Linked DNA regions of Homo sapiens. The gene in region 1 interacts genetically with each later gene. Each region holds a gene or a part of one and is shown on either strand. Other genes may lie near its edges.

Evidence for each region. Genes that interact genetically often act in the same process or in processes that back each other up.
Region 2: changes in TOP1 (region 1) and PDGFRA together harm fitness more than expected from each alone (negative genetic interaction), as found in Homo sapiens cells (one large-scale study listed by BioGRID).
Region 3: changes in TOP1 (region 1) and CHEK1 are lethal when combined (synthetic lethality), as found in Homo sapiens cells (one large-scale study listed by BioGRID).
Region 4: changes in TOP1 (region 1) and MAP3K4 are lethal when combined (synthetic lethality), as found in Homo sapiens cells (one large-scale study listed by BioGRID).

Annotation. Positions count from the first base shown.
Region 1 is NC_000020.11:41,115,822-41,119,321, reverse strand, and holds part of TOP1 (DNA topoisomerase 1), read right to left. Parts: intron 3,045-3,500; coding exon 2,930-3,044; intron 1,154-2,929; coding exon 1,026-1,153; intron 1-1,025. UniProt on the Homo sapiens protein: Releases the supercoiling and torsional tension of DNA introduced during the DNA replication and transcription by transiently cleaving and rejoining one strand of the DNA duplex.
Region 2 is NC_000004.12:54,235,793-54,239,292, reverse strand, and holds part of PDGFRA (platelet-derived growth factor receptor alpha isoform 1 precursor), read right to left. Parts: intron 1-3,500. UniProt on the Homo sapiens protein: Tyrosine-protein kinase that acts as a cell-surface receptor for PDGFA, PDGFB and PDGFC and plays an essential role in the regulation of embryonic development, cell proliferation, survival and chemotaxis.
Region 3 is NC_000011.10:125,628,163-125,631,662, reverse strand, and holds part of CHEK1 (serine/threonine-protein kinase Chk1), read right to left. Parts: intron 2,432-3,500; coding exon 2,367-2,431; intron 2,273-2,366; coding exon 2,203-2,272; intron 1-2,202. UniProt on the Homo sapiens protein: Serine/threonine-protein kinase which is required for checkpoint-mediated cell cycle arrest and activation of DNA repair in response to the presence of DNA damage or unreplicated DNA.
Region 4 is NC_000006.12:160,994,769-160,998,268, reverse strand, and holds part of MAP3K4 (mitogen-activated protein kinase kinase kinase 4), read right to left. Parts: intron 1-3,500. UniProt on the Homo sapiens protein: Component of a protein kinase signal transduction cascade. Activates the CSBP2, P38 and JNK MAPK pathways, but not the ERK pathway. Specifically phosphorylates and activates MAP2K4 and MAP2K6.

The DNA.
Region 1 (3,500 bases):
TTTAGTATTTCTTCTTCAGTTATGAATATGGGGAACAAACCATAGTAATAGCAGCAGCACTTATGACTTTATCATCAATAGATGTTAGACATCTTCATTTCATATTTGAATTGCTGCAGAAATCTTAAAGTATCATTGATATTAATTAATTACTACCTTGAAATTTACTACAGGCCACCTCAAGACCTTAATAAGGAAGCACATCTATTATCGGACTTTAAAATGTATTTTGATAACTGTATTTCAATATAATTTGTTTCCTTTTTAACCCTGTGTATCTGTTCTATAATGAAATATCTGCAAATTCTCACTGTGGACCACCATGTTAGGATGAATTAGTTATGAAGTCACTGCTAACACAAAAATGTTCATCATCAAATGTTAAGTGCCTTATGGTTTAAAAGCTCAGTACCAGGCGGAGTTAGGAGGAGGAAAGAGGCTCAGGGACAAGGAATAGCACCTATTTGCACACCAGTCTTTCCCTTTAGGGCAGCAAGTTGTCTGGCACACGGCCAGTATTCAACAGATGTTTGATGATGAACTATATAAAAATATGATTCATGTGGAATGCGTAAAAATAAAAATAGCTATGCTAGGATTTGAAAGACTTTAAATATATAATTGTTTCATCATCTTTTCAATTTGAAACAATCTAATTTGGAAATGGCTGTATTTCTGGGCTGTAGCAAGGAATTATGAAGACTCTCTTTAAATCCACTTTCCTCATGTACAATAAGGACAGTAATTAGCAATTAGAATGTACACCAAAGTTAGTTTTTCAAAATAGGGAGTGGCCAGTATAGAACTTCTATGCGTAGAATAAAGATTTCTTGAATAATGGATACTCTGATATTCAGTATCTTGATCAGAGATTAACTACTATCATATTTCCATTTGTTTATCTTTAGCATAGACCTTCTACAACAGACCCAGCACTGGCCTGCTGATATCTCAGCCCTGAATCCTCTCATTCGCAGATAATCTGCCCACAGCAGACACAGTTCCCTTCATTTTATCCAAGATACCTTAGTTTGCAAGTTCATCATAGACTTCTCAAAAGTTTTTGGTGGTGCCCTCTGATGGTTACAAAGAATTGCAACAGCTCGATTGGCACGGTTATAAGAAAGGATCTTCGCTGGGATGTTCTCATCCGCTGTAAAGAAAGGAACATGGTAGCAAGAGGGTCAGTTTGTACACCAAAAGTGAACACACAGTATGTCTTCCCCCAGTGCCTCGTCCCCATGATTTTGCTGGCTCTTATCTTACTCAGATGATTAATTCAAATTGCCCCCAAGGACTAAGGTCAAAATTTGAGTCAACAGTCTTAAGAAAATGATAGTAGGAAGTTTATATGTAAGCTTGGCCTGGGTAAATTCCTATCACAAGAGGAACTCTGAGTCTAGGTAATATAATAAAATCTACACCTTTCTTTTTACTCAGGGAACTTGGCTAGGGACCCTTCATCTCCTTGCTTCCTCCCCACCCATATGCTCATCATAGGTGCTGCTGATATTACTATGGTTTGTTGCCCATATTCATAAGTTCTATACTGGCCACTTCCTACCTCCCCACCTCTCCACCCAATGTAGCCAGAACAGAACGAGGAATTGAAGGGACGTTAAAAGTTTAAAAATTTTGGCCGGGCGCGGTGGCTCACACCTGTAATCCCAGCACTTTGGGAGGCCGAGGCGGGCGGATCACAAGGTCAGGAGATCGAGACCATCCTGGCTAACACGGTGAACCCTGTCTCTACTAAAAATACAAAAAATTAGCCGGGCGACATGGCGGGCACCTGTAGTCCCAGCTACTCGGGAGGCTGAGGCAGGAGAATGGCGTGAACCCCAGGAGGCGGAGCTTGCAGTGAGCCGAGATCGCGCCACTGCACTCCAACCTGGGTGACAGCAAGACTCCGTCTCAAAAAAAAAAAAAAAAAAAAAAAAATTAAGCCACAGTTGGTAGTATTATTATGGTTATTATTATTATTTTAGAGATAGCGTCTCACCCTGTCACCCAAGCTGGAGTGCGGTGGTATGGTCGTAGCTCATTACAGCCCTAAACTCCTGGGCTCAGCCTCCCAGGTAGCTGGGATGACAGGTGCACACCGCCACACCTGCCTAATTTTTAGAAATTTTAGTAGAGACAAGGTCTCACTACATTGCCCAGGCTGGTCTGGAACTCCTGGGTTCAAGTGATTCTCCTGCCTCGGCTACCCAAGTGTTGGGATTACAGGTGTGAGCCACTGCACATGGCCTGGTAGTATCTTATTTAAAAAGAAAAATTAAAAATGCCATCCAAAAAAATTGTTTTTATTTGTATAGTGTGGCATTCTTTATACCACCTTAAAATACTGACCCTCAACATACCTACCTCTGGCTTTTCTGGTTCATATTCTAAGGCCATCTGATGTATTTACAGAGGGCAGTGGAAATTCAATAGTGACTGGGCTCCAGGAAAAAAAAAGCCCGTGGATCTTGGTGATAATATTCTAAAAATCAGCTATAGAAAGTATCTACTCTCTTATGGGAAAAAAATGACAGAAACCTCAAGGAAAGGACTTGTTCCTGTATTTTTCTGGTAACCATGACAACTTTACTCTCTCCAATTTAACAGAACATCACAGCACTGTCTTCACTCTGTGGGCTTTTAAGTAATATATGTATAAAACACAAATGCAGGCATTTTTGTAGCAGGTGAAAAGCTGTCAGCATTCCATGAAATTAATCTTGAAGTTGGGGTGGGAAGGGGGAAACAGCATTGATCCTATGTTTATACAACAAAGCATTATCTCGCTACTAGAGGTCTAAAGGGAAAAAGTGTCTGACCACAATGGTAGGGAAAAAAAGTAGAACTGACTCTAGGCCTTAGATAAGCAAGGTCACCGGATACCATTAGTAGGGGTGTGGGCCCTATCTGGCCAAGCAATACTTACGGGCTGTCAGTTCTTTTAGCTGCTGCTGTAGCGTGATGGAGGCATTGTATGTACGGAATACCTTGGCTGTCAAGCCCTCCATGAGATCCTGAAGATGCTTATTCAGAATACCAGTCTGGAGGAGACAAAGCAACAGATTTAGGTCAAAGCTATACTACCTGCTCCTTCTGGCAGCCCTAGGAGTAATTTATGCCAGTGCAGTCACAATCTTGTCAAGTTTATTGCCCTACAAGTGGGAAGTTAGGGAAAGAGGAAAAGAATTCCAGAATACAGGGTTACATGATGCCTCTCTATGAAGTATTTCAATCTTTGTGTGTGTGTATGACAGGGTCTCACTCTGACACCCAGCCTGGAGTGCAGTGGTACAATCTCGGTTCACTGCTGCCTCCACCTCCCGGGCTCATGCAATCCTTCTGAGGCTCCTAAGCAGCTGGGACTACAGGTGTGGACTACCACACCTGGATAATGGTTTTGCCATGTTGCCCAGGCTGGTCTCAAACTCCTGACCTCAAGGGATCTGCCCTACTTGACCTCTCAAAGTGCTGGGATAACAGGCGTAAGCCACCAAGCC
Region 2 (3,500 bases), on another chromosome or scaffold:
TTTCTTGATTATACGCTCAACAAGCGGTAGAAGATTCATGAGTTTTCCCTGAAAGGGACAGGTAATTCCCAGGACTGAGGGTTCCTCCCCTTTTTAGACCATATAGAGTATCTCTGGTCATTGCTATGGCATTTGTAAACTGCCATGGCACTGGTGGGAGTGTCTTTTAACATGCTAATGCATTATAATTAGTGTGTAATAAGCAGTAGGGATGACCAGAGGTCACTTTCATCACCATCTTCGTTTTGGTGGGTTTTGGCCAGCTTCTTCACTGCATTCTGGTTTTGCTGGCTTATTTATTTATTTATTTATCTATTTTTGAGACAGGGTCTTATTCCATCACCCAGGCTGGAGTGCAGTGGCCTGATCTCAGCTCACCGCAGCCTCCATCCTCCCATCTCAGCCTGCCACCCAACTGCCCCTCAGACCAGTAGCTGGGACTATAGGCCTGCACCATCATGCCCAGCTCATGTTTTTAAAATTATTGTTTGTAGAGACAAGGTCTCACTATGTTGTCCAGGCTCATCTTGAAATCCTGGGCTCAAGCAATCTTCCTGCCTTGGCCTCCCAAAGTACTATGATTACAGGAATGAGCCACCAAACCTGGCCTGCAACCTGTTTTATCACTGGGGTCTTTATGACCTGTATCTATCAACTCCTATACCAACTCCTTTCTCTCCTGTGACTACAAATGTGTAACCTCCTGGGAATGCAGCCCAGCAGGTCTCATCCTCTTCTTACCTAGGCCCTATTCAAGATGAAGTCACTCTGGTATGAACTCCTCTGATGCTAACTCATACAATGGAGTGAGCCTAATGGGACACAATTTGTTCCATCATTGGCTTTGGAAGCTAAAATATGTGTGCATGTGATTCCTGAGTAAACTGGTTTAAAAAAAAGAAAGAGTGAGAGAGAAATTCAATGTATTCATATATTGCTGTGTTTAGCCCTAGTTGGGTTTGGTTTGGTTGGAGGGGATCCAGGATCCAGAAGATAATAGCCTAATCAAAGTTTTTGGTGGGGCCTAATCATGTATTTCTACCGTAAGGTGGCCTACTTTGCAGAAATCAGATTTCTGTTTTATTGAATGCTACCAGGAAAATGGGAGAGGAAGAGAACACAGAGAAAAAGGTGGAAGGCTCCTCACAGGAAGGGGAGTGGGGTATGTAGAAAACAAAGTAAGAGAAGGAGAAACCATTATTTACTAAGCCAAAGTTTGCATGTGCATGCTGTGTTTGTGAAGAATAACCCTGTGATTACTTAGAGCTGATTTTAAGAAGTGGCAGTTGAGGCTCAGAGAGGTTTTGCAAATGACCCAAAGTCACACAGCCAGTGACAGAGCCAGGATTTGAACACAAGGTCGTGTGATACAAACGCCATGCCCTCTCCACTTCACCATATGGTCTCTCTCAAGGGAAGGTCAGTGTTTTAGCCATATCCCACCCCTGTGTGCCACCTACTTGCCTGACTATTTCCTAGGGCAAATTATACCTCCTCCTTCCATTTTCCTCCTTTGCTCACCACAGCAGGAGAAACACAATTACAGTGCTGTGAACCCAAATGCAATTCACACAATGCTGGCTGGCTGATGGCCTCCGAGGATCCTGACATGTGCCTGGGATGCAAGGCTTCCACACTGCTGCGGTGGCAGGCACAGTGGGCCCCAGAGCCAGGCTGGCCAGCCTGATTTACCACAATTAGCAGTAATGCTTGTGTGTTTGTACATATAAATATCAGCCTCCCACTGACAATCCACTCAGCAAACTTCAAACAAGGCCTCCAGAGCCAGCTTGATGTCTTTGGTTTTATCACATTTAGAACCCATATTTCTTTGGCAAGACTTGCCAAAGATGCATCTTTAAAGCTTTCTCCAGCTTAAAAGAAGGGCTCACTGCTTTTCCTGTGCAAGCTCTAAGCAGTGCTTTGCCCTGGCCAGACACTCCCAGATTTCCTTCAGTGCCTCCAGATACAGTGGACCCTCTGCCAGGAAAGATTATTTACTGACATATAAAGTGGCCAATGAGGCCGGGCGTGGTGGCTCACATCTGTAATCCCAACACTTTGGAAGGCTGAGGTGGGCAGATCACTTGAGGTCAGGAGTTCAAGACCATCCTGGCCGACATGATGAAACCCCATCTCTACTAAAAATACAAAAAATTAGCCAGGCATGGCGGCAGGTACCTATAATCCCAGCTACTCGGGAGGCTGAGGCAGGAGAATGGCTTCAACCCAGTAGGCAGAGGTTGCAGTGAGCCAGGATCTCGCCACTGCACTCCAGCCTGGGTGACAGAGCAAGATTCTGTCTCAAAAAAAAAGTGGGCAATGGAAACAGGTCCTCTGAGCAAGCCATCAGGAAGGAAGAGAATAAACATGTGTTTGTTGCTTAAGATTCCAAACCCCAATCTCTGATAACAGTGGTTCCCTGGGTAGAAATCAGGCCTGTTTGTGAACTTTCTTTTTTTCTTTTTTCTTTCTTTCTTTTTCTTTTTTTAGATGGAGTCTTGCACTGCCGCCTGGGCTGGAGTGCAGTGGCATGATCTCAGCTCATTGCAACCTCTGCCTCCCAAGTTCAAGCGATTCTCCTGTCTCAGCCTCCCGAGTAGCTGGTATTACAGGTGCCCACCATCATGGCCAGCTAATTTCTTGTATTTTTAGTACAGACAGGGTTTCACCATGTTGGTCAGGCTGATCTCGAACTCCTGACCTCGTGATTCACCCACGTCGGCTTCCCAAAGTGCTGGGATTACAGGCGTGAGCCACTGTGCTCAGCGTGTTTGTGAAGTTTCATGTCATTACTTATCTATAACTCAGACAGTTTACTCATGAATAATGGCAGTGCTTGCCCCACAGGGAGGTAATGAAGAAAAATGGGAAACATGGGGAATTTCCTCACCTATTAGACCTGTAGTGAGGCTCTCTGGGAGTGAGTCTTGCTGTTCCTGCCACTTTTATCTACTCTAAATGCTCATCCTTAATTAGTAACTGCTATTCTGGAGCTCATCTAAAGTCAGGTGTGCAAATATAAGTAACTGAAACTACAAATTCTGAGAAACATGGCACCATAAGAATCCGTGAGAACAACCCCCTTTGCAGGGAAGAACACTAGATTTCACCCAAATCTTTTCTTCAATCATAATTACTTCCCTCATGCCAACTACATGTTGAACTTCAGCCCCCATTCTCAATAATCACAGCTCAAAAAACATTTGCCATAACTTAGAGGAACAAACTGAGAAAGAGACCCCCCGCCCTGTTGACTCTCAGGCAGGTGACTTGTGCTTTTCCACCATCCTCTTGGCCTTCTTATGCTTTCTCTCAGAAGAAAGGATGGAAATCACATTGGACTAGCCACTGATCCCAAATCTGATACTCTATCCAACTCTCTGAACCTCAGTCTTTTCTTCTAGGAAGCACGACTACCAAGGCCTGACTGGTTGCTTGCCCTGTGGCATTCTTGTAAGGACTAAATTATATAGTTTAATTGAAAGTGCTTTGATTTT
Region 3 (3,500 bases), on another chromosome or scaffold:
CTGGTCTCAAACTCCTAGAATCACTCAATCGTCCCACCTCAGCCTCTGGGATTACAGGCATGAGCTACTGCACCCAGTTGATTATCTTTTCAGTAGTTAAATATGACACTATTGGACAAACCACTGAGATTGAGTTTCAAATTACTTATGAGTAGTAATCACTTAAAATACTAATGGATAACTATAGTATTCCTTGGACTTTGTTATGTCTGCAACATAATACTCAGCTATGTTAGAGAACTGCACATAATAAAATTTAAATGTAGGAATGTGTTTAGCTCTTAGAAAAACAAAGGAAGAATATATTTGTGATGAAATAAACAGGAGGACATTAAATACTGGTAACATTTTATTTCTTTTTTTAAAAGACTCCTAAATATTAAATAGAAACAAAGAATTATATCTTGTATATTAATACAAGATATAAAGAATAACAATGTAATAAACACCCACTCACTTTAGAAAAACAATGCTCTATTTCCTTTGAAATCTTTAAATACTTCCTTAAATACATTCCCTCCCCTACTTTCTTAGACCATTCTGAATTTGGTTTTATTATACCCTTGCTTTTCTGCATGTTTTTTTCTCCATGTTTACATACTTGAACAATATACTAGGTTTTACATATTTTTGAACTTTGTATAAACAGAATCAGACCATATGAATTCTTTTGCAACTGTCTCTTTTTGCTCTACATCATTATATACCTGAAATTCATCCATGTCACTGCTTGTGACATGCTTGTGTCACTGCTTGTGACATGGCTTGAAAAGCCATGCATTTCATAATTTATTGTTGACAGACATTTGGGTTAGTTTCCTGCTATATTAAAAACATCACCACTGTGAGCATTCTTATATACGAATAATGTTGTATTTTTAAACCAGGTGGGTTGATATACATATATTTACATTTCATTATAATACATAAGAATTTTTGTGTACCTGAATTTTTAAAGTTTTAAATAAAAATAAAGATTTTTATGTCATATAAACTCAGTTTAAAGGGGTAAAAAGTAAAATCCATATGCACATAAGAAAAAAGCATGTATAGGCTGGGTACAGCGGCTCACACCTATAATCCCAGCACTCTGGGAGGCCAAGGGAGGCAGATCACTTGAGGCCAGGAGCTCGAGACCAGCCTGGCCAATATGACAAAACCCCATCTCTACTAAAAATATAAAAATGAGCCAGGTGTGGTGACTCAGGCTTGTAATCCCAGCTACTCAGGGGCCTAAGGCACAAGAATCACCTGAACCAGAGAGGTAGAGGTTACAGTGAGCCGAGATCATGTCACTACACTCCAGCCTGGGCAACACAGCAAGACTCTGTTTCAAAAAAAAAAAAAAGCTGACCATTTGTTAAGCACTATTCTAATACTAAGAATAAAGCATTAAACCAGACAAAAACTACTGCCTCATACAGCTGACATTTCTTTTTTGATTCTGACCCTGTAAGCTTAAAGCTTTCGCTATCCATCCTTCTCAATTTGATGACATTCAGAAAATATAACTAAATTTCTTACATTTTTATCCACGTCATACATAAAAAAAGAGTGAACAGGACAAGACTAAGGTCCAGGGTATTCCACAGGAACTTCCCTTTATTAATCCATTAAAGGATTATTTTAAACTATTCTTGGCCAGGCATGGTGGCTCACGTCTATAATCCCAACACTCTGGGAGGCTAAGGCTGGTAAACTGCTTGAGTCCAGGAGTTCAAGACTAGCCTGAGCAACACAGGAAGACTCCACCTCTTCAAAAAATCAAAAATTAGCCAGGCATGGTGGCACCTGCCTGTGGTTGGTCCTAGCTACTCGGGAAGCTGAGATGGTAGGATTGCTTGAGCCTAGGAGGTCAAGGCTGCAGTGAACTGTGATAATACAGTGCACCCCAGACTGGACAACACAGTGAGCCTGTATCAAAAAAAAAAAAATTATTCTTATACATATAGTGAGCTAGGCTTGCACCTAGGTCAGATTTCTCTACCTGATCCGCACTTGTATTGCAAAATGAGACTTGTGATTTCCAAATATACGAAGTCTCCAAAATTTCCTTGATTTTTCAGATCTTGTCTTGAAATTCCAGTAATGCAAAAAGACTTGATTTTGCCTTGTATGGCTATATTAAAATAATTAGGTAATTAAAATAATTTAGGTAATTATTTTATTTTATTTTAGGTAGTGATAAAATGCTAAACTTACCCCTTTCATCCAACAGAAGATTTTCTGGTTTAATATCCCTGTGAGTTATTCCAATACCATGCAGATAAACCTAAGAGGGATGCAGAGAGAAACACACTAGAATTTGGTAATGTAATGTATTCACTCTAATTTTAAGTAAAAGGGAAATAGACAACTATACCTACCACCCCTGCCATGAGTTGATGGAAGAATCTCTGAGCATCTGGTTCAGGCATGCCTATGTCTGGCTCTAAAACAAATATGAAAGTAAGTTTATTGACTAAATATAATCAGGTAGCAACCACATAGCTTCTTAATTTGAAGCTTAGACATTTACAAATGTGCTTAGGCAAACAGAAGCAAATGCCAACAAAAGATTCAGGAGTCCACTAACACATATGGGGCTTAACTCACATTTACCTGTGTTAGGTGGCAAAAGGCGTCATCACAGAAAAATTATAAAGAGAAAACCAATATCCAAATCAAGAATGCAAGCCATGACTTCAAAGCCTCTGCTTCCTCTTATACTAACCCTGATTTATTTAGTAACCTTGAAATTCCCCCCATTTCTTCTAAATGCTATGCTAATTATTTTTCTCATTCCTGAAATATAATGCCAAAGGGGAAGTCTGGGCAAATCTAAGCCAATTTCACTAAATATTTTACAGATTATACTTCTTTTATAATTTAACTTTTTTTAGAGATACGGTCTTGTTCTTTCACCCAGGCTGGAGTGCCCTGGCGTGAGATCATAACTTACTGTAACCTGGAACTCTTGAGCTCAAGCAATCCTCCTGCCTCCTAAGTAGCTAGGATTGCAGGCATGTACCACCACACCTGGCTCAGATTTAAACTTCATATAGTCTCACAGTACAAAACCACAAATGCCTGTGAGGTCCTTCGTGAAACAGTTTTATTATGAAAGTTCTTTTATCAGTTATCTTTTTATATTTTGATCTCTCTCATTAACTCCATTTCTTTTACCCTCAACTCTCTCCTGAGTCACACTGGAGATCCTAATACCTCTTTATCAGTTTTTAACTGATAAACTTATTTAATACAATAGCTTTAAATTATAAATTTAAATTATAAATTTAGATCCAGATTTTATGTACTTCTCAGTGTTCTGAAATATCAATCCTTTGATTCTACATCGAATATTTAAGTATTAATAGCAAACATAGAATTTACTTAATATACAAAAAGCAATCCTAGAAAATTCTCAATTATTTCATGTAAACCAAGAGGAAACAGCATGCTATTTTAGATCTGTAAATGTATAAAATGTATACAATGATTTCATGTAACTAGAATGTCTA
Region 4 (3,500 bases), on another chromosome or scaffold:
AGTTTAACTCAAATTAATAGTTTAAGCACAAATAGAGATTAGCTCACATCAAATCAGGAGAAAAATAGGGACAAATCTAGCACAAAAGGGCAACTGGCTGACAGTGTGGTGGTGCGCACCTGTAGTACCACCTACTTGGGAGGCCAAGGCAAAAGAATTCTTTGAGACCAGAAGTTTGAATCCAGCCTGGGTAACATACAGAGACTGCCATCTCTTTATTTATTTTTATTTATTTATTTATTTTAAAGGCAACTGGCCATAGACCTCTTTCAGCCTCTCTGCTTTTCTCTGGGGATTAACATCACTCTCTGAGACCAGGTCCTCTGTAGGAGCTTCAGGAAGCTAGCTCTAGGCTCATGAATTCTCAGCCTATACTTCAGTAAAATGCGCGTTTCTCTCTCCCAGCTCCAATTTGAAAAATCCCAGGAAAGAATCCTAATTGGCCTGGACTGGGTCAAGTGTCATGCCTATGGCCTGGCATCTGTAAGAAGAGGGCAGCTCCAATATGTACCATGTAGTTTGAGTCAAGAGAGGAATTCCCCCAAATAAGGTAGAAGGAAGACAGTGAAGTAGGGCAGACACAGCCGGTGGACAAATATGTGTATGAGATGAAAAACTACCTCAAATTTTGGCTCCCATCTTCTGCAAATTCTGTTTCATAGTCTGTTTGTTCTTGCTGAACACAGCGGTGAGTATGTATACATCAGAAATACTTGAGAATCTTCTTAAGAAGAGCTACTCAGGTACCACCCCAAAAGGAGTTGTATCATGAGCATCTTCACATGTCACTAAACACTATTTAAAAACAGTTTTTAATAACTGGATAGAATTCTGATGTGGTTCTGATTTTTTAAAATTTAATTTTATGACTTAAATCCAGAAAAGCCAGATACCATCATGATCCTTTTTGAACACAATATTCAAAAAGAATTTTATGAAAGCACCAACCACTGACATCTTTGCCACATTGTTCTGAGAAACTATGCTAAAGGATTCTTGGCGAGGGGTGGTGGGACAGAGATTATGGGGAGAATACTGGGTGGGGGATGGAGACAATAAGGTGATCCTCTGAGACTCACCATTAGTAAAAATGTACCGTACCACTGAGGTTTAAAAAAAGAAATCTTAAAGTGAGAAGGATAAAATATACTCCCAAATTAAAGCAGGAAAAGCAAGGTTTGTTATAAAGACTGAAGATTAAAACAAACATACTATAACCCAAACAATTTAGGAAAGTTTGTGACACAAGGGAAAAAAGCAGCCTGTGTGATGCCTAGAAAATAAAAACCTAAGAGTAAGTCTGGATCACACTGCCTCTCATTCAGAAGCAGGGGTGCACCTGCTAGGGATGCAAGCCCACCTCACTGGTCTGCTAACATGAGTCACCGGGATCATTCAACTCATTTCCCTTGCTAATATCATGCTTACTAATCAATCTCTTAATTATACTTTGGCTTTCTACAAGCAAGAGAATACACTGACTAACCAGGTGTACAGACAAAGCTGAGTATCTGTGCCTGAGAAGCCAAGCACAGTGAGTGTCTGGGCCTTGATTATCGTGCCAAGGGAGTGCCAGCTTATGAAGACCTACGGAGTCTTCAGCTAATCTCCTTCTCTCACGTTTTCCATTTTCTCTTTAAAGAAACCACTACCAGTAGCCTACTGATAGGCAACGTTAAAGAGTCTTCAAACAGCATACATACTACCTGGTCAAATGACAAGGCTGAGACAATAGAATGCTATGAGTAAAATCATAGTCATGAGGAATGAGGAATTATTAAATAACAGGAAGTTATTACAACAAATGTATCCAGTGAGCAGGCAAGACCTTTATATCCCCGTATTTCAGCAGAGCTCAGAACAAGATTTGCAGGACACCATGAGAGCATACATGAAGGAAACAGAGTGGCCTCTAACAATGACAGAAAATTAAAGGGAACTACAAAGTCCTCCTAAGTGACAAGTCCCCAGTTGAAAACATGAAGTTTCTGCCATCACTGCTGTTTGGTGACTCCTCTCTGCCTAACGCCACCCCCGCCAATGGCATCTACTGTTACAGTGGTGTAAAGGCATGACCATCACTGATGCTACACCAACAGTCTGGAGCACCACAGGAGGCTGACTTTGCCAGGGAGAACAGTTGACATACAAGGTCAAGACTGAAACACACAGGCTCAAGGTGGACATTCAAGCCGAGAGGCAGAGCAAATTGCCTAGGAGTGACGACATTCAACTAGTTTTTTAGTAGGAAATCCAGTTTTTCAAATGAATTTACAATAAATATATAAAGTAAATAATTCATTTTTTAAAAAAAGTTAATTGTTAAATTTATGCAGCATGTACTCATAAGGACAATGAGAACAATGAGGCTATTTTTAATATAAATATTTTAAATGAAAGGTTATAGTAAACAAGAGCATTATATCAGCCTTAATATCCAATTTATTCTGTGTTTTAGGTGTACAGATCCAATAAGTCACAAAGGTAAATTGTTCCAAATTAGTTTTAATAGCTCTCCTAGTCACCTCAGGATCCTCCTAAAACTGCCCCAGAAGCTTGAAAAAGAAATGATAAGCAATGTTTATTTCAAAATTTAATCACTAACAATAACAACAGCTATCCTTATCATGAATTCTTTATCAAAAATAAGGACAAAAGTATCCACAACTGACAGCAAGCAATAAAACTGGAATAGAGTACTATGACCTCTCTGCCTGTTTTGTGTTGCTGGGTCACTGCATAACACTCTTGGGTCAGGAGGAAAGCACACACTAGGCAGATGTGCTGGGCTGGCTGCACCTGCCACGATGGCACACTTGCTGCACAGCTTTGGAGGCCAACATGTACAGGCCTGAATTCTACAAAAGGCCTGTGCATTAACACAACCTTCCTAATCAATGACACACAGACATAAAGTATGTGACAAAGATGGCAAACAGAGTTTTATTCTAGTCTGTGGCAAAACCAGTTAACCTGGTAGCATAAATTATCACATTATTGGTTTCCAATGTATTAAAAGGTGGCATTTCACACATTTTCAACAAACATAAGAAAAAATGCTCAACATCACTAATTATCAGGGAAATGCAAATTAAAACCACAATGAGATACCACCTTACTCCTGCAAGAATGGCCATAATTTAAAAATAATAATTAAAAAAATAGACAATGGCATGGATGTGGTGAGAAGGGAACTCTTATACACTGCTGGTGGGAATGTAAACTAGTACAACTACTGTGGAAAACAATATGGAGATTCCTTAAAAAACTGGCCAGGCGCAGTGGCTCACGCCTGTAATCCCAACACTTTGGGAGGCCAAGATGGGCGGATCACGAGGTCAGGAGTTCAAGACAAGCCTGACCAACTTGGTGAAACCTTGTCTCTACTAAAAATACAAAAATGAGCTGGACCTGGTGGCAGGCACCTATAATCCCAGCTACCCGGGAGGCTGAGGCAGGAGAATTGCTCGAACTCGGGAGGCAGAGGTTGCAGCGAGCTG